Regions from separate parts of the Homo sapiens genome. Here region 1 is linked to region 2. The links come from fine-mapping of genetic effects on gene expression. Tissue or cell type: subcutaneous fat. Region 2 holds a variant in brackets; the other region holds the start of a gene. All regions are shown on one strand. Distances are between the middles of the regions. Region 1 holds the start of ZNF596 (zinc finger protein 596). Region 2 overlaps LOC101927566 (a long non-coding RNA gene).

Evidence for each region. PIP is the estimated chance that this variant, and not a neighbour inherited with it, causes the effect.
Region 1: it holds the start of ZNF596, and the variant in region 2 is fine-mapped to the expression of ZNF596 in subcutaneous fat (GTEx, PIP 0.95).

The regions. Positions count from the first base shown.
Region 1 is chr8:225,585-238,001 of GRCh38, reverse strand. It overlaps ZNF596 (zinc finger protein 596), which reads right to left and starts at 5,546. Exons shown (of 6, transcript NM_001042416.3): 1 at 5,308-5,546. It also overlaps the pseudogene RPL23AP53. RefSeq lists an enhancer at 5,340-5,659 and a silencer at 5,680-5,779.
Region 2 is chr8:247,943-260,359 of GRCh38, reverse strand. LOC101927566 (a long non-coding RNA gene) reads left to right here. Exons shown (of 5, transcript XR_245320.4): 5 at 2,046-2,093. Among named protein-coding and RNA genes, the nearest start is that of ZNF596, 22 kb to the right of the region's middle. The variant T/C (reference allele first, on the strand shown) is at 6,637.

The DNA.
Region 1 (12,417 bases), 22 kb after region 2:
TGGGTCACCCCTGCCAGCAGGGACTAGTACTAAGGATGAGATCCACCAATGGCCACAGCTGAGTTATGCCAAATGAGATGTCCAGACCTCATGGTGCCTAGGAAGACAGATGGCAGAAGCTCAGCCAGGCCATGGAGATTAAAACAGTGCTAGGGGCTTAATGTATGTTTTTAATGGGTCTGCTACATGTCAAGTTTGGATCTGGAGTCCAGCCTATAATCCTAGCAAAAATTAAACACCAAATATGATATTCAATAAAGTGTATGTGGCTAAAAACATACGTTGGAAATACACATAACTAGAAACATCCAAATTCAAAGAGAAACTGCTAATTCCACAAACATGATAGAGTAATTTAATAATGAGATCACACATACATAAATAGTAAATATGAACTGTATATTTATCTGAGTTCTAAAGACTTTTTTTTCCGTCTCAGTACACTAGTGGGTATACGTCACCAGTAAAATCAAAGGGGTATTCCAATTACATTCATGATATTAATAAGTATGATAAATGTAAGTAGCCAGAACCATGGAATTGGGGCTACAGCTGTGATCTTCAAGAAACGTAAAACTTTAAAAACACTCATAAACCAAGAAAAAGATAAAACAGGAGTTACTTGACTTTCCAAATTGTTACAAATTCAGTACATATTAATAAGACTTAAAAAGATAAAACAATTTAATAAATAATAAAATAATGTAATGAATGAACAGATTTGACAGAAATCAATAATTAAAAAGTTTTGAGAGCAAAATCATGAAACTGAAAAGACCCACGGTGGAAAGAAAAAACACAGGTTAATAAAAGAGACTGTATTTATTTAAAAGTAGTAATTTAAAATCTAAGAAATGGGAATAATTATATTCCAACATGAATATGTATATTACTTTCCACAAAAAGAGTAAAAACTTTCCCTCATTAATCAGCACAAAAATCTGATTAGCCAATTTTAATGTTTAAGTTATATATCAGAGTTTAACTGTAAAAGTGATTTGTGAGAGTTCTTACATGTGAAATCACTTCTAGTTCCTTTGTAACCTAAGTTATTTTGAAGGAGAAAAATAAGCCTGTCCTCATTAGTTTATTATGCTAATCAAAATGAACATGAATGTAACAATAACTACAAATTTAACCAACAATTTTCCTTACTTACATTTGCAAAAATCATCAATACAATTTTAGCCATTTGGCTATTTATTTTGGCCACCTGGCCATCACTGGTATGGTTAAATAATGACAGAGCATGGTAAAGTGGAGTTTATTGCAATAATAAAAGGATAATTCCATACTAGAAAACCTATCATTTTCACAAAGTAATTTTAAAGATTAAAAAAATCACATTAATAGACCTTTGAAAAAACATTTTCATATAATTTAAATCTTTAAAAATAATATAAAATCTTTAAAAATCATACCAAATTGTGGGGACTAATTCTTCTTAATCAATAAAATCTCAACAATATATTCAGCAGTTAACAAAAGAACCATTTCCACTAAAGGTAAGGCTGGAAAAAGGAGGCTGGGTGAGGCTGATGCCATTCACCACTGCACATGATGCCTGAGGTGGGACCAAAACAAGAGGGAAAAGGAGAGGGACTACAAAAATGGAGTCAAAGAGCTGCAACTGTAGTTATTCTCAGATGACGTGACTGTAAACTTGAAAAAGTGGAATCAATTCTAATTATCAATACTAATAAGAATATTTAAAAAGTGGGCAAAACTATTATGAATATTCTGAAATCAATATTTCCTGTTTAGCAACATTAGTCCTTAAAAAAAGCAAACACACAAAATCAGTGTCTATTTACAACAGGCAAATATTATGACTACGATTTGAAATAAATTTGTAGACCCATGTAAATAAATTTTAAAACTTAATGAGGATATAAAAATGACATGAATAAAGCCTGAAAATCCTATTATTAGAATGGAGGACATAGTGACATAAAACCTCAGTGACTGTAGACTCAGGGCAACCTAGACTTAAAAGTCCCATGTGGTCTTTTACATGTAAAAAATGAGAATTAGTCTAAAAGTCAATTTTGTCTAAATTTTGATTTTTGGTGAGTATACAGTCAAAATAGTTGTGAAAAGAAAAAAATAAAGTTGTCAAATTTCATGTAACCTATGTTATTTGGAAATTTAAAATAAGTCATATAAATATTTATAACAATATTAAACAATTTCATAAGTGGACTGAATAAAACATAATATTTTATCATATACAATAGCTCCTGCCTTCCTGAGGAAAACATAAAATCAAAGGGCGTGAAGGAAGGATTTTGGTTTCACTGCAGAAACATAATAAGACACCGAAGTGTGTGTTTGTGTGTGCGTACATATAATTAAACTACAGAATATAAAATAGCATCTAATATACATCAAAAATGAGTTTCATAGAAAAATTCATTTTACACATATGTCTATAAAATAATAAAATTTATTCAGCCTCACAATTACTTTGTGAACTGGAAATAACAATGAGTTGTCATTTTATCCAAATCTAAAAAAAAAAAACATACATACAGTATCAAGTTCTGGTTAAAGTAGTAGATGAACTTTATGTGGTACATAAGAGTATCTATACAGTTTGTGGGCTGCATCTTGCTAGAATATATTACATTATAAAATGCACCATTTATTTACTCTGCGATCAAACCCCCAACTTGCCCCAAGTGGAGGAACCCTCAGACATTTGCAGAGCAGTCAGTGTGCTAGTAAGCAGCATTCTTTACAAATCTATGAACATCAAGGTCTCCTTGGAACAGATGTTCTGTGAACAATTTATAAAACTCCCTCCTGTTAGACACTTAGGTTGATTCCATTTTTAAATCAATTACTGAATAAAACACACTCCATCGTGTGGATGAAATGCTACCTTAATTTGTCAAAGCTATCATTTTCTAAACTTTTCTTTTTAATTCAAATCATTAATATTTTGTGGCCAGATCAATACTGATTCATTGTTTTAAGCTTCAAATGCATTATACAGTTGGGCAGAACACATTTCCTCTCATCAATCTTCTTTTCCAGGATTTGTCAGATATTCCTGACATTAATTCACTACTAATATGCACAGTTTCTCTAATCATGGTCAACAAAGATCTGACAGTGCATTGTCCCTAAACGACCCATACTTGCCTCACTGACACCATGTGGCCCACTTCCCATCTATAATCTATGTCTGGGTGTGAAGCCCTTCCCATATGATCCCCCGAATGGAACTTCACAAGTTCGAATTCACTGGGTCACAGTGTGATAGCGTGAAGATGGGAGGACGTTAAGGGAAGGCTATGGGTGAGTTGGGAAATGTGTTAGGCAGGGTCAGAGATTACCACATCCTAAAAACAACACTTAAGGCGGGAGATGACAAAACAATCAATGAATAACATGACTTTTTCCAGTGAAAGTGCCATATCTAATCCTTTTCCATTTTTGTTCTCTGAGCTTCTTTCTTAGGGAAGATCCTTCTTGAGAAGCCCCTGCTGAGTATTAGGAAAATGCATTTCAGGACCTCTCATCAACACACCCTCTTTCTTTACCACAACCACATATATGGGGGCATAACTCAACATGTGTAAAAGACAATCTTCTGCTTTTCACTGAACCTCCAGGAATTCAGGACAATAAACCTCTACATGCAGACCAACAGGTGAGTTTTTCTGCCCCTTCTTTCATAACACCGTTCTTCCCTAGTGAAGTCCACACACATCCTTACATGGCAGCTGTGGGTATATCAACTGGTCTGACCCCTTTTAGTCACAGAGCCTGAAGTCTGCTAGTACCTGCTGAGCACAGTGTCATGGGTGAGAATGGGCAAGGCTTTTTCTTTCTCTGGTTCCTGAACTTCCCAGGCTCTCTCACTTCTGGATCCTGAATACCCAAATCCCAAGCTTCCTTCCCAGAACCAACACCTCCTCCTCATTAGAAAGATACCTTTGTTGTGTGCTTACTTTATAAAGTCTTGCTCTTTCCCTGTCCACTGCCTTGTGTCACTATGTGTGTGTCTTGGGGCCGGTGGAAAGGTGAACAGAAGCCAGTAGAGAGTAACAAGCACCAGCTTCACAGGAATGGCATGACCTTAATACGATAGTGGCAGTTTTCCCTTAACATCCCTGCCCCCTAAAGATTTCAGATCATATGTCACACTCTTAAGTAACAGCGATTTGTCTTTCACGGTTTTAATCATATTGATTAAAAGCATTTGTCTTCTCCAGAACATCACATTAAGTCATCAAAAAATATAAACCTTAAAAAGATGTAATTATTGGAACTGAAAAACATAAAAGGTGAGCTTTGGAAATATCTTTGAGCAGTCTATTCATTATGAACACATGTAATCTGTTGGAACAAAGTTCTAGGACAATCCAGGTCATCCTTCAATATTTGCAGAAAACAGCACAAAGAAAACTTGATACTTAAACTTAGTTGGAAACTTTATGCCACAGCCATTAAATACAGAGATCATATAAAGGAATAGAGGAAGCTGTTGAATACTAAACTAACTCAAATCATCATTATCCTTACGAAGTGCACACTGAATTAATGTAAAAAGCATTTAGTAAACAAAAAGTATTTTCAATATACAATTAAGACTGAAAAGTATTGAGGCCTCATAAGCTGAACCTGACACAATAAATTTAAAAGGGAAACTAATTTGGAAATCAGAAAACCATCTAAAGAATTTGGGAATTAGGCTTCTGCTGCCCTCTCTGCTACTGACGGTCAAGGCCTCCTCATTGTATTCTGTCCTCCATATCTCTGCTGATTCCCATTTTGTCTATTTCCATTTACCCCACTACTACTTGCTCAGGTCACTCTCCTTCATTGTCGGTGTTTGTTCAAATTCCTCAGACCCATCCACTTCCCATCTAAACTTCCCTCCCCTTTTCTCGCTCGTTGGCTCTACCTCCCTCCTCTGTTTTCTCCTCACTCTCCTGCCCCACCTCGACATCCACAGCGAGGCAATGAAGAAGCCCCTGCCAAGGAAGAGCCCGCTTCTCAGTGGGACACCGGGAAGGTAAACACCCAACAGTCACCGCTAGTGGGAGGCGATTGTGCAGAAGCACGAGGGTTGTTACAGGATCGGGCAGGTCCCCTACCCCAGTCTCGGACTCAGGGTCCTGTCTGAGGCGGCCACCCCGAAGCGTGGGGTTTGCGGAGACGTAGGGCCTGGCGGAGGGAAGGATGGGGAAGCATCTCAGGGAGGACTGGCGTCTGCCGAATCCCAGGGCTGCCCTGAGGGGCCAAGAGGGGCGAGGGTGGGGACGATGGAAGACAAGCCACATGCCGAATCGGGACCTGAGGCCGCGCGCGATAGGATGGGCGGACGGTGAAGAGAACTAGGGTGGAAGGGCCGGACAGGGGCGACCTCAGTGACGGAACCGGACACAGACGCAGATCTGGCAGCTGGGCGACAGGCTTCGGAGCATTTCCGGGCGTCGCGGGACTCCCCGCCGACAGGAGGGCGGTTGCCGAGCCTGTGACATCCGCGGAGACCAGCAGACCCCGGGTGTGGAGGACGCCGCAGGAAGGGAACTGCGTGGCTGGGTTTGGCCACAAAAAGCGGAGGGCACTCACCCGAGCGGACCTCGGCTCCGGAGAATCCGTTTCCGGGTCAACAAAAAACGTCGCGCGAGGGGCGGGGCCCGTACGTGCAGGGAGGGGAGGCAGAGAAAAAGGCGGGGCCGGGCCGGGGCGGGGTCTCGGGCAGGGGCGGGGAGCTTACCGACCTCCCGCCCCCGCTGCGCGCGTTTCTGGCCCTGCCAGTGTCTCCGCCGGTTGAAAGCGCGTGTCTGCGTCGGGTTCTGTTGGAGTGCGTTCGGTGTGCCGTGGGTCCGCGCTGCTTCCACCCAACTTCCTGTTAGGTAAGAGGCGCGTGAGGCTCCTGTGCCGGGGGCGGTGCTGCTCCCGAGTCGGCGCGCGGCGGGGACGCGAGTCCGTAGGTGCTGGCGGGAGCGAGAGTCGGGTGGGGACCCTCGCGAGCCCGCACTCCGCCTCTGGGTAGCAGCCTCTTCGGCCCCACACGGCGTGACGCGCGCTCGGGCTCCGCGTTCGCGTCGAGGCAGAGGCGTAGTAGGGGTCGGGCCCAGGGCTGGAGGGGCCGGGACCGGGCGGGGTGCCGCCCTGGACACCGCGCCGGCAGCTGTTCCGCGCGGGTTCATGTCATTCCTATTTTCAACCTGTCCTGCTCCGCACCTGAGATGATTTATAAATTCGGTACCTTTGGGACAGGCGTGGATGACATCCCATAATTTACTTCGTTATTAATTTCTAAATGTAATACATACCACTATCTAAAAGTATTTTTTAATTTGAAATATATTTGTATACGTATACATGTATATTTATTTATTTCTGAATTTTATCTCGTACATATAATGAGGCTCGTAAAGTGGATACTGTTCAGGACATAGGTGGATTTTGCTTTTAAGTAGTAAAGACTTAATTGGTGACTTACTGGGGCTATTTGATAAGGATTTTTTTTTAATGAACATTAAAAACAGTGAAATTGTATTTCCGGATTTCGTTAGCTTCATTTATATCTTAATTGGTGAAAACTGTAAGTTAATAACTCATTTTTATTTCCTTTGGAGATTCTTAAGTTTGTGCTACCAATGATTATTTCCAAAAAAGGCACACTTCTGGTTTTCCCAGAACTAATGCTAGCTTCTCAATCTTTTGAGTTTACTTGATATTAATGTTTGACCTCAAATCATGTCACATTTTTGAAGAAAACTTTCTCTTAGCCAATGGAACATAAACCACCCTGGAGTTCATATAGAGGAGGGGTTCAAATGCCTCTGATAGTGTCGTGTTAAAACTCATGGCCAAACGCAAGGTCACATAGCTTTCTTTCTATGTTTCCCTCTAGAATTTGTATAGTTTTGTCATTATAAAATGGGTCTTGTCCTAGACCCCAAGAACAGGTTTTTGGATTTCACATGGGAAAGACCTTTTGGCAAGTCACAGAGTATAGTGAAGTTAAGATAGTTTATTAGTGACTACTCAGCTACATAGCAGGGCGTCCTCAGAAAGCAAGAGGAGAAATGCACCTGTTGTAAACATATAATTTTTTTTTGAGACAGAGTTTCTCTCCTGTCACAATGGCATGGTCTCGCCTCACTGCGACCTCTGCTTCCTGGGTTCAAGGATTCTCCTGCCTCAGTCTCCCAAGTAGCTGGGATTACAGGTGCGTGCCAATATACCCGGCTAATTTTTTGTGTTTTTGGTAGAGACTGGGCTTCACCATGTTGGTCAGGCTGGTCTGGAACTCCTGGCCTCAAGTGATCTGCCTGCCTCGGCTTCCCAAAGTGCTGGGATAACAGGCATGAGCCACCCGGCGCCCGGGCTTAATGTTTGTTTATATAGGTTATTAAGAATCAGTTTGTGACAGGCTATTAGTATTGTTACTTCTCTTTGTTACTGTCGATTTTAACAACAATTTATGTGTGTACTGTTACCTTTAAAGTAAAACTTATTTTTAAACTAAGAATGCTTTTTGTTCTTAAAGTTCTGGGACATTTAAATAACTTTCATGTCTTTATTAACTTGTTCCCACAATCATAAATATTTTATAACGAAAAGTGCTCAACCCCCGAAATATATAATCCAACAAATTTAACGTGTGTGTGTGTGTGACAGAGAGAGAGAGACAGGGTCTCACTCTGTCGCCCAGGCTGGAGTGCAGTGGTGCGATTATGGCTGGCTCATTGCAGCCTCGAACTCCTGGGCTCAAGCAATCCTCCCGCTTCAGCCTCCTGGGTAGCTGGGACTACAGGTATGTGCAAGCATGCCATCTAATATATATATATATTTTTTGTAGACATAAGGGTCTTGCTATTTGCCCAAGCTGGTCTTCAACTCCTGATCTCAAGTGATCCACCCGCCTTGGCCTTCCAAAGTGCTGGGATTACAGATGTGACCACTGCACCCTGCCCAGATTTAACTTTTTAAAAGCCTTTATTTGAAATAAAGTCACTGTGGTTAAGAGGCCTCTGACGGTTTTGCATTTTAAGTCTGAGGACTATGTTGAGTGACTTTTTGCATAAGTTGTAAAATGTGCATTCATGTTGATTTCATTTCCTATGGTTTCCAATTAATTGTCCCTTCTGCATTTTTAGAAACTCACGGGCTAATGGGCTCTGTGTCAGTTTGCATTTCTAGAATGATGGCGCCGAACACTCCATGCTGTCTTTTAGTTGGTGCAGCAGGAGGGGTAGCAGAGGGCGCTCAGCTTCCGACAGTGCCTTGAGCTCTAGGGCGCTGCAGTGCCCCCGGCCGCCAGCAGAGCACGCGCGAGCCCGGCTTTTCTGAGCCTTGAGGCGGCCGCATCCCGCACGCTTCCTCCGCGCCTGCACCCTGCAAGGGCGGGAGCCGCGTTCTCCTCAGCACATACCAGGAAACGCCCCTCGCTTTGGGACACCTTGAGCCGGCGGCGTCCATGGTTGAGTAAAATCCTTCCTGTTTTCAGCCCTGACTGCTGAGGGGTAGAGACCCTTCATGTGGAAAATTAGAAACCAAAATCCCCTGTGAATCCAGCGCACTCGAGGTTCATTCTCCACACCCAAGGCGAGGCGGCCACAGGGCCAAGCTGCGGTCTTGGAACAGAAATGTAGTGTCAGGAAAGCAACTAGAACACCCGCCACACTGACAATAACCTCTGTAGTGCTAATAACACTGCATCTGTGATGCTAGTGTTAGCACCCGTCGTATGCAGAGAGCACACCCGTCGGGGTAGCTGCCTTCCACATCCAACCCCGGGAACGTGGATGTGTCCCTCAGTGCGCACATAACGCTTGGAACGCGGAGATGACATCGTCACCTAACGCTACAGCCGTCACACTCATATAACCCCCGGAACACGCATGTGTCCCTCAGAGCACACACGTAACCCCTGGAACGCCCGTGACACAGTCAGACTCACGCCACACCCGTCACACTCATATAACCCCCGGAACACGCATGTATCTCTCAGAGCGTACATACCGCCCGGGATGCAGACATGGCCTTTGCAGCCCACACGAGAGGGTCTGCAGCTCTGAGGATGGAACCTTCCGGCTCTCGCTGGGGCGCTGAGTTGACAGCCTCTGCTGGGCTGGGTTTGGGCTGCATTTGGCCTCTGTCATGAAACTTCATGGTGTTGTCTCTGGCTTACTGACGTGGTATTGCCACGGTTGTTTTAAAAAGTAGTTTACTTCCCAATAATGTCATACTTCTGGGAAACTTGCAACAGCACTTAGTATGCCTTCTCCTTGATCTCCAGTTCCCCAGCCGTTATTGCTGTGCCAGATTTGCAGCTTCACAAAAAATACCCCCGTGTGTTTCACCAAAACCAGGAATACTCCTCCAGGTGATCCCCAAGTAACCCCCAATTTAGGAAATACATGGTTTCTATGTGAAAGTCCACTCCACAGACCTATTTCACTTCACTCCCTGCCCTAGGTGGGAGAAAAATGTCTATTTCCATGCGGGCCCAATTTTCCTTCTCGGGAACTGTTCCTGAGACTCAGTGTTCTGTTTTTTGTTTTTTTTGAGGGAGTCTCCCTCTGTCACCCAGGCTGGAGTGCAATGGCGCCATCTCTGCTCATTGCAACGTCTGCCTCCCATGTTCAAGATATTCTTTTGCGTCAGCTTCCCGATAAGCTGTAATTACAGGCACCTACCACCACACCCGGCTAATTTTCTGTATTTTTAGTAGAGATGGGGTTTCACCATGTTGGCCAGGCTAGTCTTGAACTCCTGACCTCAGGTGATCCATTCGCCTCAGCATCCCAGTGTGCTGGGATTACAGGCGTGAACCACTGCATCCGGCCGACTCTCAGTTTTCACAGCCTTAACAGATGTAAAGAGCAGAGATGACTCCAAGCTGGGTCTGCCCAGCGTTTCCTCCTAAACGTGTGCAGATCCTGTGTTCCTGGCAGGAGCATCCTGGCGTGGTGCCGCGCTCTCCTCACTGCAGCCCACTTGGAGGAGCACCCGTCCATCCCACCACCACTGGCGATCTCACTTGGAAATGGCAAATATTCATTTACAATCACAAATTTCATCCTGTCAAGCTTCGGATTTCACTTTGCCAGTGGTTTTCACTGGCCTTAGAACCGTGGACTCCAGACACCGAGTTCTCCTGCCTGCTGTCCTCTCCCATCCAGTCTGCTACAGCTGCCTGCAGTCCCACTCATGGGGACATGGACTCCCAGGTGTCTTGGGGATTTTATGTGGGTTCCCTCAACCCATTCACCCAGTGCTGACCGTAGTTTTTTAAGGCTTTTTCTAGATAAGTCCTTCAAGTCACAGCAATTACGATATCTAAAAGTAGAAAAGTTAATGTTGATTTTCTAAAGACAAAAAAATAATTCATTATTAGATTGTCTGTGAGACGACCGTCAATTTTTTTTTTTTTTTTTTTTTGAGGATAGAATCTCCCTATGTTACCCAGGCTGGAGTGCAGTGGCATGATCTTGGCTCACCAGAGTCTCCACCTCTCGGGTTCCAGCGATTCTCCTGTCTCAGTCTCCTGAGTAGCTGGGACTACAGGCACCTGCCACCATGGCTGGCTATTTTTTGCAATTTTAGTGGAGATCAGGTTTCACCATGTTTGCCAGGCTGGTCTTGATCTCCTGACCTCCAGTGATCTGCCTGCCTTGGCCTCCCAAAGTGCTGGGATTACAGGCCTGAGCCACCGTGCCCAGCTGCCCTCAATTTATAAATCAAGGAAATACTAGTTCTCTGGAACCAAAGTTCATGTTTGAAATAATTAGGAAAGAAAAATAAAATCTCATTGCTGAAAGAAAGACAAATAGCACAATTGATTATTGAAATTGCAGAAGAGGGCTGGGTGCAGTGGCTCACTCCTGTAATCCCAGCACTTCGGGAGGCTGAGGCAGGCAGATCACCTGATGTCAGGAGTTCGAGACCAGCCTGGATAAGATGGTGAAATCCCATCTCTACTGAAAATACAAAAATTAGCCTGGTGTGGTGGCATGCACCTGTAGTCCCAGCTGCTCAGGAGGCTGAGGCAGGAGAATCGCTTGAACCCAGGAGGTGAAGGCTGCAATGAGCCGAGATTGTGCTACTGCACTCCAGCCTGTGTGACAGTGAGACTCCGTCTATAAAAAAAAAAAAAGGAATTTCAGAAGAATTTACTGGACAGACTGTTACGTTGCTGTGTTCTGTAGCCCTGTGTTAACAGTTACAAGGTATTTTAGGTTTAAACACTTATATTTTAGTCATTCGCTATAGTTAACTATCAAAAAGTCCTGTCCACATCATGACAACCTATATAAAATTTGGAAACCTCTTCATCTATACAATGGAAAATTGGTAAAGTAAGTGTAGATGTTTAAGCTGATGAATTATTAATATTTAGGTACTGAAATGAGTGAGGGAATGTGATTATGTCATAGTTCTGGCATGGGACTTGGCGGGGCTCCCTCTGTTGCCTCTTGGTGGACGGCAAATTCGTGACCTGTGGAGACTGAAGGATAAACTGTCACCTTCATCGGAAACCCCAGTCCAGAAGGAAAGTCCTCATTTCAGGATATGCCACTTCGTCCCATGCATTTCCTTTTTCTTGTTCTGTTTTTTGGAGACAAGTCTTGCTCTTTTGCCCAGGCTGGAGTGAAGTGGCCTGATATCGGCTCACTGCAACCTCCATCGCCCAGGTTCAGGCAATCTTCCTTCCTCAGCCTCCTGAGTAGCTGGGATTACAGGTCTGTACCACCACACTGGCTAATTTTTTTTTTTCCTTTTAGGCGGAGTTTCGCTTTTGTTGTTAAGGCTAGAGTATTATGGTGCGATCTCGGCTGACCGCAACCTCTGCTTCCCAGGTTCAAGCGATTCTCCTGCCTAGGCCTCCTGAGTAGCTGAGATTACAGACATGCACCACCACGCCCAGCCAATTTTGTATTTTTAGTAGAGATGGGGTTTGTCCATGTTGGTCAGGCTAGTCTCGAACTCCCAACCTCAGGTGATCCGCCTGCCTCAGCCACCCACAGTGCTGGGATTACAGGTGTGAGCCATCTTACCTGGCCCTTTTTATTTTTATTTTTATTTTTGAGACAGGGTGTTGCACTGTTGCCCAGGCTGGAGTGTAATAGTGCGATCTCAGCTTACTGCAACCTCCACAATATGGGGTCAAGCAGTCCTTCTTCCTCAGCCTCCCAAGTAGCTGGGACTGCAGCTGTGTGCCACCATGTCTGCCACCATGTGCCACCATGTCTGGCTCATTTTTGTATTAGTAGACATGGGGTTTGGCTGTGTCGTACTGGCTGGTCTTGAACTCCTGGGCTCAAGTGATCTGCCTGCTTCAGCCTCCTAAAGTGCTGGGATTACAGGCGTGAGCCACCTTGCCCAGCCTATTTTTAACTTTTTAAGGAAATACCAAACTATGTTACAAATAAGCTGCACCAT
Region 2 (12,417 bases):
GGCAGTATCACATAGTAGGAAAGCATGTTTTTCTAAAATGATCCAAGCATGATATGGACAGGTTGAGACATGGGGATTCCCTGGATAGGATTTGAAACACCCATCACAGAAGTATTTTTTTACTCAGAGGGATACTTTGATTTATTAGAGTTGTTATTAAAGTGAATACAGTGACTCCAGTGACCACAAATAGTGTACAAGAATCTTCATCATCTTAGTATTAGTTAATAGCTAAGATTCGGAAGCAACCTGTGTCCATCAACAGATGAATGGATAAAGAAAATGTGTTATGTATACACAGTGGAGTACTATTCATCTATAAAAAACTAAGAGATCCAGTCACTTGCAACAATATGGATGGAACTGAAGATCTTTATATTAAGTGGATTAAGCCAGGCACAGAAAGACAAACATCACATGTTCTCACGTATTTGTGGGAACTAAAAATGAAAACAATTGGGCTGGGCGTGGTGGTTCACAACTGTAATCCCAGCACTTTCGGAGGCTAAGGTGGGGGTGGGGGCAGATCACGAGGTCAAGAGTTTGAGACCAGCCTGGCCAACATGGTGAAACCCCATCTCTACTAAAAATACAAAAATTAGCTGGGCATGGTGGCGGGCACCTGTAATCCCAGCTACTTGGGAGGCTGAGGTAGGAGAATTGTTTGAACCCAGGAGGCGGATGTTGCAGTGAGCCAAGTTCACGCCATTGTACTCCAGCCTAGGCAACAGGGTGAGACTCTGTCTCAAAAAAAAAAAAAAAAGAAAGAAAGAAAAGAAAACAATTGAACTCATGGACATAAAGAGTAGAAGGATGGTTACCAGAGGTTGGGAAGGGTAGTGGTAGAAGGGGGAGCTGGCAGGGGGGAGGTGGGAATGATTAATGGGTACAGAAAATAGAATGAATAAGACCTAATATTTCATAGCACAATAGGGTGACTATAGTCAATAATAACTTAATTGTACACTTAAAAGTAATTAGAAGAGTGTAATTGGATTGTTTGTAACTCACAGGATAAATGGTTGAGGGGATGCATTACCCCATTCTCCATGATGTGCTTATTTTACATTGCATATCAGTACCATAACATCTCATGTACCCCATAAGTATATATACCTACTATGTACCCACAATATTTTTTTTAATTTCAAAAAAAAGGTATTACAGGAAGTTCCTCACCAGAGAATTCCTCAGGTCCTCCACCCCTGCAGGGTGGATTGTTGTCAAACCCTCGGGGACTTTCTCTGATGGGAATACTGTGTGGCCCAAAAGGAGCCAGCCTATTAGAGGACTACTCCAAGAGCAGATGACATGTCTTCCAGGGACCTCATTGTTTACAATGAATGCAGCCATCTCGAGGTATAGAGCTTACCCAGGTTTCCTTTGTTTAGGACATATCAGTTTTGAGTTATAACAGATATAAGGAGGTCTGTTCCTGTAGCTTTTGTACTTGTAAAGATATTAGTTTATTAGCCTGTTTATTCTTTCTTTTAGCATTTTTTATGATTCTAAAAGTCTTTCAAAGCGCTTACTCGTAGTGACCAATTGGGTCATATCAATGACTTTCTATCCAATCTTATGTTTTTTAATCTGGTCTCCAAGCTCTGTTAAGAGTTTATTCATTTAAAAGGCTGTAAGGCATTTCAGTTGTTTCATTATGTATTTTAAGCCTAGAATGGTTTTATATATAAGATTTTAGTCCAGCTCTGTAATAAGGAACTGGTTTATCCTTTTTGTTTGTTTTCATGACTCGATAATGGACCAGGCAATTTTCTGTGGGAAGACAATGGGAATAGCATTTAAGAGGGTTTTTTTTTTCCTGATATCCTTTGTGCCACTCCTGTAGGAGTAGCTTTTGAGGGAACAGTAATACTGTTATAAATTTTGTTTTTTAATCTTTTTGAGACTGGAGTGCAGTGGCACAATCATGGCTCAGTGCAGCCTTGACCTCCTGGTCTCAAGCCATCCTCCCATCTCAGCCTCCTGAGTACCTGGTACCACAGGCACATGCCACCACATTCAGCTAACTTTGTTTTCTGTTGTAGAGACATGGTCGCACTATGTTGCCCAGGCTGGCCTGGAACTCCTGGGCTCAAGAGATCCTCCCACCTCAACCTCCCGAAGTCCTGGGATTACAGGTATGAGCCACTGTGCTAATCCTAACCACGGTTAAAATCTGACAAAAGTTCCCAATTCATAAGAAAATTTGGTTATATTTATTATATGTAGCATTTTATAACAACCAGAATCATGTCTTACAGCTTTGCATCAGGTCCCTGAGATCTTTATAAGTTGTATATAATCTTAGAATACTTACATTTATAACATATTTATATGAATATAACTTTAGAAGATATTTAACAAAACAAAAGTATGGCTGACAACAGATTTTCATCAATATATATGATTTTTGGAACATTTATGTCAGGAACATTTATATCAATAACATACCTATAAGTGTAACTGAAAGATCTTCCATCACTTATTACTTGATATCCTTTGTGCCCTGTGTGGTAAAATGTCGCCCATATATTTTACCAGATAAGTCTAACCATTTAATCTCTATAAGGTAAGAGGCAATATTTTTGAGGGTTTCCAGGGGTCAACCTTCAAAATCCCGAAGTTAGTTTTAGGCCAAAAAGACTTAATATAGGTTTTTAATCTTGAAGAAACCTGCCAAAGATGTCAGAAGACTCAAAACACTCAATCAAACAGAATCAGGGGTCACTGTTAAATAATAGCAATACAGAAGGTTACATAGATGTAAAAACATTAACCCTTTTATAGCTCTTTTCCTAACTAATCTAAAACCCAATTAAGACAAGGAAGGAATTGCCTTGATAACATGTACAATCTTTATTTTTGTCTTTTAGGCTAGTTGTGAGAAAGGTAAAGAAAAATTTCCTATAGTGTGATTGCTTTTGTTTATAAGAAACCCATTTAGATTTCTTGGAAGTTAAACCTAATGAAAAGGTTACTTGAATTTCATCAGACAGGTAGACAGTGTCCACGGCTATGAGTATATAGAGAAATGCAACCGAAAAACTGGTACCTTGGACAGGGAAATCCATGGCTGTTAGTAACCACATGAAAAGTTACTGGCTGGGCGCGGTGGCTCGCGCCTGTAATCCCAGCACTTTGGGAGGCCGAGGCGGGTGGATCACAAGGTCAGGAGATCGAGACCATCCTGGCTAACATGGTGAAACCCGGTCTCCACTAAAAATACAAAAAATTAGCCGGGCGTGGTGGCGGGCTCCTGTAGTCCCAGCTACTCGAGAGGCTGAGGCAGGAGAATGGTGTGAACCCGGGAGGCGGAGCTTGCAGTGAGCCCAGATCGCGCCACTGCACTCCAGCCTGGGCGACAGACCGAGACCCCGTCTCAAAAAAAAAAGAAGAGAAAAGAAAAGAAAAGTTATCTGACTGTATGGAATAATTTTGATATATCAAGAAAAACGGGCCAGCTTTGGTGGCTCACGCCTGTAATCTCAGCACTTTGGGAGGCTGAGGTTGGAGGGTCTCTTTACCCAGGAGTTTGACATCAGCCTGAAACATAGTGAGACCCCATCTCTATGAAACTAGAACTAAAAACTTAGCCAAGCATGGTTGGTGTTGTGGGAGGGACCAGGTGAGAGGTAATTGAATAATAGAGGCAAGTCTTTCCCGTGCTGTTCTTGTGATAGTGAATAAGTCTCATGAGATCTGATGATATTATAAGGAGGAGCTTCTCTGCACAGCTCTGTCTTTGCCTGATGCCATCCACCTAAGATGTGACTTGCTCATCCTTGCCTTCTGCCATGATTGTGAGGCCTCCCCAGCAAGGTGAAACTATAAGTCCATTTAACCTCCTTTTTTTTGTAAATTGCCCATCCTCGGGTATGTATTTATCAGCAGGGTGAAAATAGACTAATATTATAAATTGGTACCAGTAGAGTGGGATGGTGCTGAAAAAATAGCCGAAAATGTGGAAGCGACTTTGGAACTCGGTAACAGGCAGAGGTTCTAACAGTTTGGAGGGCTCAGAAGAAGACAAGAAAATATGAGAAAGTTTGGAACTTCCTAGAGACTTGATGAATGGCTTTAACCAAAATGCGGATAATGATATGGACAATGAAATCCAGGCTGAGGTGGTCTCAGATGGAGATGAGGAACTTGTTGGGAACTGGAGCAAAGGTGGCTTTTGTTATGTTTTATCAAAGAGACTGCCAGTATTTTGCCCCCGCCCTAGAGATATGTGGAACTTTGAACTTGAGAGGGATGATTTAGGGTATCTGGCAGAAGAAATTTCTGAGCAGTATATCATTCAAGATGTGACTTGGGTGGTGTTAAAGGCATTCAATTTTATAAGGGAAGCACAGTATAAAAGTTCAGAAAATTTGCAGCCTGGTGGGTTACTGACACAGTGCAGGCCCCTCCCACTGCGGCAGCTGAGCCTACTGGCAGGGCAGCCATAGTGTCACCACCTTATGTGACACCCACCTGTCTGACTGGCCGACCAGTGGGTTACAGGCCCCCCCTGTGCAGGACCCACCCTTTGTGGCAGTTAAGTCCACCCAAGCTGAGGTATCCTGGCGAGATCTTCACCTGGGTCCCATGGGGAAAATCAGTCAGCACCATATGTGCTCTGGTGGACAGGTGAGTGTCCCTTATGCCCCCATCGCCATAGTATCAGGAGAACTAGGAAATGAAATAAACGTCTTTGGCTAGAGCATGTCCTTGTCACCCCTTCCCTGAGTACTTTCTCTTCGGACTCCATTGTGTTGTTCCATTAGTTATTTTATTTTCAGTCCTAAAATGTGTGCAGTCTTATGTTTGGTTTTACCTTTCTGTTAATTGTTTGGGGACGATTAAGGCAGGATACTTGGTTGTGAGAGATCCCCACTGTTTTTACTTCGGGATGCTAGAGTCATGTTGTTTGCTGACCCCAATTTGGTCTTGGATTGACTGTTGGCCGCATTCTGGGTGCCCCAGGGTTTTCAGGATTTGGTGAAGGGACCCTTGTTGGCTGAAACTTGGGCCTTCTGAGTTTTCAACATTGGTATTCTGGCCACCCCCCATATGATCTGGAGTATTTGTGTTGACATTCCCTCTAGGATTCTGAGGGATATATGAGTTATAGCCCTCTCCCTAGGGGAGTATTGGTCTTGCCCTTTTCTGCCCTATAAGTTAGAAGTATTTTCCTAATAGCAAGCTGCTAACCCTTCCTTTATGCTGTCTTCCAACTAGCTTGCTCAAGCCACTCTTGGTCCAAGGAAATGGGAATTCCCAGGCCCCTGGCATAATGGAGAGCCACCTACAGTGGTAGGCAATTGGCCACGTGAATATTTTTTTCAGTGTCTCTGCTACGGGATAGGTTACCCAGCAGGTCAGGGCCTCTGAGGTCTCCCCTTGGGCAGCACTGTTTACCTCTTCCATTTCTCCCTTCCACAGTCCCTCCCTTCCATTTTTGAGCCCACCTCTCTACCAACCGTTGCTGTCTGTGGCATTTAGGTTCAAAATCCAACTGCCCATTTGAAGCTCATAATCCACTTTTTAAAAATTATGCTTTAAGTTCTAGGGTACACGTGCACAACCTGCAGGTTTTTACACAGGTATACACGTGCCATGTTGGTTTGCTGCACCCATCAACTTGTCATTTACATGAGGTGTTTCTCCTAATGCTATCCCTCTCCCAGCCCCCACCCTTGTCAGTCCCCAGTGTGTGTGTGATGTTCCCCACCCTGTGTCCATGTGTTCTCGTTGTTCAACTCCCACCTATGAGTGAGAACATTTGGTGTTTTGTTTTCTGTCTTTGTGATAGTTTGCTTAGAATGATGGTTTCCAGCTTCATCCATGTCCCTGCAAAGGACATGGACTCATCCTTTTTTATGGCTGCATAGTATTCCATGGTGTATATGTGCCACATTTTCTTAATTCAGTCTGTCACTGATGGACATTTGGGTTGGTTCCAAGTCTTTGCTATTGTGAATAGTGCCACAATAAACATATGTGTGCATGTGTCTTTATAGTAGCATGATTTATAATCCTTTGGGTATATACCCAGTAATGGGATCACTGGGTCAAATGGTATTTCGTGTTTTAGATCCTTGAGGAATTGCCACACTGTCTTCCACAATGATTGAACTAATTTACACTCCCACTGACAGTGTAAAAGCCTTCCTATTTCTCCACATCCTCTCCAGCATCTGTTGTTTCCTGACTTTTTAATGATCACCATTCTAACTGGTGTGAGATGGTATCTCATTGTGGTTTTGACTTGCATTTCTCTGATGACCAGTGATGATGAGCATTTTTTTCATGTGACTGTTGGCTGCATAAATGTCTTCTTTTTAGAAATGTCTGTTCATATTCTTTGCCCACTTTTTGATGGGGTTGTTTTTTTTCTTGTAAATTTGTTTAAGTTCTTTGTTGATTCTGGATATTAGTCCTTTGTCGGATAGGGTAGATTGCAAATATTTTCTCCCATTCTCTAGGTTGCCTGTTCACTCTGATGGTAGTTTCTTTTGCTGTACAGGAGCTCTTTAGTTTAATTAGATCCCAATTGTCTATTTTGGCTTTTGTTGCCATTGCTTTTGATGTTTGAAGGGGTGGCCTTCCCCTCCACACCTGTGGGTATATCTCACCAGGTGGGATGAGAGA[T/C]TGAGAAAAGAAATAAGGCACAGAGACAAAGTATAGAGAAACAACAGTGGGCCCAAGAGACCGGCACTCAGCATACAGAGGACCTGCACTGGCACCGGTCTCTGAGTTCCCTCAGTTTTTATTGATTATTATTTTCATTATCTCAGCAAAAGGAATGTGGCAGGAGAGCAGGGTGATAATAAGGAGAAGGTCAGCAAAAAACATGTGAGCAAAAGAATCTATGTCATAATTCAGTTCAAGGGGAGGTATATGCCTGGATGTACACGTGGGCCAGATTTATGTTTCTCTCCACCCAAACATCTCAGTGGAGTAAAGAATAACAAGACAGCATTACTGCAAACATGTCTCGCCTCCCACCATAGGGGGGGGTTTTCTCCTATCTCAGAATTGAACAAATGTACAGTCGGGTTTTATACTGAGACATTCAGTTCTCAGGGGCAGGCAGGAGACAGTGGCCTTCCTCTATCTCAACTGCAAGAGGCTTTCCTCTTTTACTAATCCACCTCAGCACAGACGCTTTACAGGTGTCGGGCTGGGGGACGGTCAGGTCTTTCTCATCTCACGAGGCCACATTTCAGACTATCACATGGGGAGAAACCTTGGACAATACCCAGCTTTTCAGGGCAGAGGTCCCTGCAGCTTTTCGCAGTGCATTGTACCCCTGGTTTATTGAGACTAGAGCATGGCAGTGACTTTTACCAAGCATACTGTTTGTAAACATTTTGTTATCAAGGCACATCCTGCACAGCCCTAGATCTCTTAAACCTTGATTCTATACAACACATGTTTTTGTGAGCTCAAAGTTGGGTCAAATTGGCTGGGGCAAAGTTACAAATTAACAACATTTCAGCAAAGCAATTGTTTAAGGTACGGGTCCAAATTGAATTTCTTATGTCTTGCCTTTCTACATAGACACAGTAATAGTCTGATCTCTATTTCTTTTCCCTACAATGTTTTAGTCATGAAGTCTTTGCCCACGCCTATGTCCTGATTGGTATTGGCTAGGTTTTCCTAATCTACTTTTGTAACACCTTGGCAACTATAGAAAGTGGGAAATGAAAAGGGAAAAGTAAGTATGCATTTGCTAAACTTAGGCTAACTAAAACCCCTTGTAGTGAGCCTTACTAGACATGGGGACAACAGTAAGCATTCAAAAAGACTCGCCACTCGGGTGTCATTTAGGCCATTGGAGTAGCTTCAAATTATTAGACAGGTTGAAAAAGAAAAACCTTGTTTACTATTGCAATAATGTTTGGATTCAATAAAAATTGATAAACCAACATATTTATTCTAGACACGGTTCTTTACATTATAATGATATCATACAGTTAGATTTGTTGTGTGAAAAGGAAATAAAATGGTAAGAAGTTTGCTATGTGCAGGCTTTTATTTCCCTCTACCAGGATCCTAATCTAAGGGCTAGCTGTAGAATGTGTCTGAAGCTGCACCAGATACCCTAGATGACCCCCTTTTAGCTGTTCCTCTGAGATCTGTGCTCCCACTTCAGAGCCTCCCCAGTCTCCTACTTTTGAGGGGGACCCCACTAGTTCTTTGGTGCAGAATTACACTCCAAAGTCATCAGGAACCCCTCCCACTTATCCAACAAGCCCAGGCCCCTATTCCCCGCTGCCTGAAGAAGCCAGGTTCAAAAGGCCCTCCAAGCATATGGAAACAAAGTATTCCCCCCTCCCCTATTCAACCAGGAGATTAATAAAAGAATTAACCCCCCTATTCAACCAGGAGATGCAGTTTTGCTGAAAACTTGGAAAGAAATATCCCCTGAAGATCAACTACAACCAAAATGGAAGGCCCACTATCAGGTTTTATTGAGTACTCCCACCACTGTGAAACTTCAGGGAAGAACCAGTTGGGTATACCTGTCCATGATTAAACCTGTTTCTGAGTCACAGGCACAAAAAGAGGACATCATGACCTACATCTATGAGTTTTTGGAAGACCTCTGGTACCTATTTAAAAGATTCAACACTCAGCTAAAAGTGGAAATGTGATGCTGTGGGTGGGAATAGGAGCTTAATTTTTCTCTTCTTCTTAATTGAACTTCTTTTATGTTGCTTTAGCCAACTTCTGCAAAACACCTGTTTTGTCCTTGTTGGGTATAGAGACCATGCTAATGCCTAGCTGGACACCATGTTGTCACTGTTGATGTTTGCTCTTCCAATTACCCTGATCCAGTGTGGGTGAGAACATAACTCTATAGTAAAGATTTCTAAGATTATAGCATCAGGGAATCATCTTCACAGTTGTTAGATTTGTCATCAACATCCCCAGGATAGAGAGTTATATCTTCTGGCTTACCTGGAAAATCTCATGACCATCCCCCCTGGCCTCCTAACTAACCATAGCAATCCAGAAATAATCAAACCCCTACTAGTTAAGTGCAGCTCTCACCCACTTAATGTATTCCACTTGAACCCCTCCTCCACCACTATTCCCTGGACCTGGGAAGTTAGATATCCATATCTCCAGTGCACAAATGATTCTATCCTTTGCTCTCACGTCTGTGTTAATGACACAAAAGTGGAGTGATGCTCTCTGATCCAACTATAGTTGTCAAGTTTCCAAGGCTGCAGTAAGTGGGATTCCACTTGTAAGTGAGAAGAAAACATATATGGTGATTTCTGGATCAGAACATACAAAGGAGAAATGACTGCCCAGTCCAGGAAGGTGGAAGTACTGCCCACTTCTGGGAAACAAAGATTATCTGACCACCCCCACTGGAACAGGGAGAAAATATCTCTATAGACCCAACTTGACAGCAAAGAATAAACATCATACCCCATAGGGCTTCTGTTTGTGGCCATGAACGGGAATAAATCAGAATCTGTAACCACTCCCAACTCTAGGGAGTCACCTGTTCTTTTAGGAGTAGCTTTTCTTTGTCAAGTACTTGGAACAGAAGTGAATGTACATTGCCCCCCCTTGACTCACCAGGGGTCACTGTCTATAACCCCAATAGACCCAAGAATACCAGAAGTAAGCAAGCGATAGGATTAATTCTGGCAGAAATGAGGGCAGTGATAGGATTAGCAGCACCCTGGGGCAGCTTTGTCTACCATGACTTAACTCTAAGGAACTTGACTCAAACCCTTAGAAAGCTTAGCCACTATCACAGGTCAGGCATTAAAGGGAAATCAAGTCCTTAGACTCTTTGGCAAATTTAGTTCTCTATAAGAGACTAGTGTTGAATTATTTACTAGCTGAACAAGGAGGAGTCTGTGAAGTTATTAGTAAAACCTGCTGCATGTATATTAACAAATCTGGACAAGTTGAGATTAACATTCAAAAGATCTATGAGCAAGTTACCTGGTTACATAATCAGGGCACTGACTCCCAACTGTATCTGGTCATCTATGAAAAGTACCTTCCCAAGTCTCACTGGTCTTTACCTCTCCTAGGACCTTTGATAGCTATCTTACTATTCTTTGTCACTTCCTTGTTTAACCTCTTAGTAAAGTTTGTGTCTTCTAGATTACAAAACTTCCAGGTAAAGACAATGCTGGCAGAAGAATTCCAACCATCCTGTTTACTGACCCAGAGAATGAAAAAGTGTCCTGCCTGTGGGTCCCTTAGTTGAGGTACCCAGGGATTTTTCTTTTTTCTTTTTTTTTTTTTTTTGAGACGGAGTCTCGCTCTGTCACCCAGCCTGGAGTGCAGTGGCATGATCTTGGCTCACTGCAAGCTCTGCCTCCCAGGTTCATGCCATTCTCCCACCTCAGCCTCCCGAGTAGCTGGGACTACAGGCACCCGCCACCATGCCCAGCTAATTTTTTGTATTTTTTTTAGTAGAGACGGGGTTTCACTGTGTCAGCCATGATGGTCTCCATCTCCTGACCTTGTGATCTGCCCGCCTCGGCTTCCCAAAGTGCTGGGATTACAGGCATGAGCCACCGTGCCCGGCCTGTACCCAGGGATTTTTACTCCTCCAGTGCTAGGCAGGGCCTATGCCCATAAGCTCAGCAGGAAGCAGTTACAGAATACAGACTTCTGCCCTTCTACAGCACCCTTAAGATTAAGGAGGAATATCTAATCTCTGAGGAGAGGATGAGGTAGGGGGTGGGACTTGACTCCAGAGGTAGGGCTCAGACACTGGACCAGATTGAGGAGTAGCTAAAACAAAGCCATAGCAAAAGCAACTTTCCAGAGATACCCACCAGTCTGCCATATCTATTTACCACTGCCATGGCAATACCCAGGGGTTACCTCCCTTTCCATGGCAATGACCTGATGACTCAAAACTTACTAGCCCTTATCTAAAAATTTCTGCAGGAACCACTTCTTAATCTGATATCAAAGGAAATCTGGCTGTGCATGTGTGTGCTCTTACTATGGGTATCTTATACCTCGGCATCAACACAGAAACCCAGGACTGGGAGCAGGGACACATGTGGCACAGGGAGAAAATACACTGACTTCTGTCACAGGCCAAAAGAGCCGGGCCTTATGGTCGCATGTGGTAAATGAGGCAGCTGACACCAATGGATTTAATGTGATGTTAAGCTGTGAACAGTGGAGAACTTTTTCGTATAGAAATAGTCATTATTGTGAAAATTCTGATTTAATTATTTCACCCATAAAAATAGAATAAGCATTATTTGGCTTAAAATATTTGAGTAAAAAATTTTTGTTCCCAGCATGACTGTGGATGTTATTGGACCAACCCACCATTAACAGTAACAAAACTTAAACGAAATACATGAAACAGCTGCTTTAGGCATGAGGGTAGCCTGTTCGGACAGGATTTTCTGAGGTAGAATTCATGAGAAAGGGGAGAGTCAATGAAGTATCACACTGGATTTTCTCAAGCACTTGAAAATTAACATGAAGGGAACATAAGGTCCCAGAAGAAAGATGGCCTGTCTAGGCGGAGGAAAAATAAGCTGACATTTTTGTTTTGTGCAAAATAGTGGGGTTTCTGCTTCTGGGTAGGATGGAGTGAATAAAGATGAAACAAAAAAAGAAAAAAAAAACAGATTAATTTAAAGTGTAAGCTTTAGAGGCTAGAGAGGAATATATAAGCTAAGATTCCATAAATAGCCCTTGTGAGAAGTGAGAATATTAAACATTTACACACAGAACAGAAAGGTTCTTAAAGAAAAAAAGCCCATGGCAACAAAAATCTCTGTTATGATGCTCATACCTGATTCTGGGAGACATTCATGCAAATGTAACCACAATTATCCAGCACTGCCAAATTATATTTAAATAGATTCATTTGTAATTAGTTTTATTTTTGCAATGTTAAATCATATAATATATTGCCTATACTTATCAATACTGTATTATATACTTAAAAATTTGCTACAGGTTGCTGTGATGTAAGTGGTTTTATCACAAAGAGAACAATGAAAAATGAGGGAAGGAAATTTTGGAGAGAATGAATGTTTGTGGCACAGATGGTGGTGGTGATGGTTTCCTGGGCTTATCCTTATCTCAAAACTTATTAAGTTGTATACATTAAGTAACAGCTTTTGTCAATTACACTTTGATAAAGTGGTTTAAAAACAAAAAGGCAAATTTAAGCACCATAAGACTGTACTTTTAAAGTGAGTCTTTCATAATCCATGTTTGACTTAATCATTACCATGTACATATATACCACTACTATAGTTAGGACCTATAATTTTGTGTTCTATGTGTATTAGTTCCATTGAATGTCACTGTCTTTTTGTTTTGAGCCAGAGTCTCACTCTGTTGCCCAGGCTGGAGCGCAGTAGCATGATCTTGGCTCACTGCAACCTCCATCTCCTGGGTTCAAGTGAT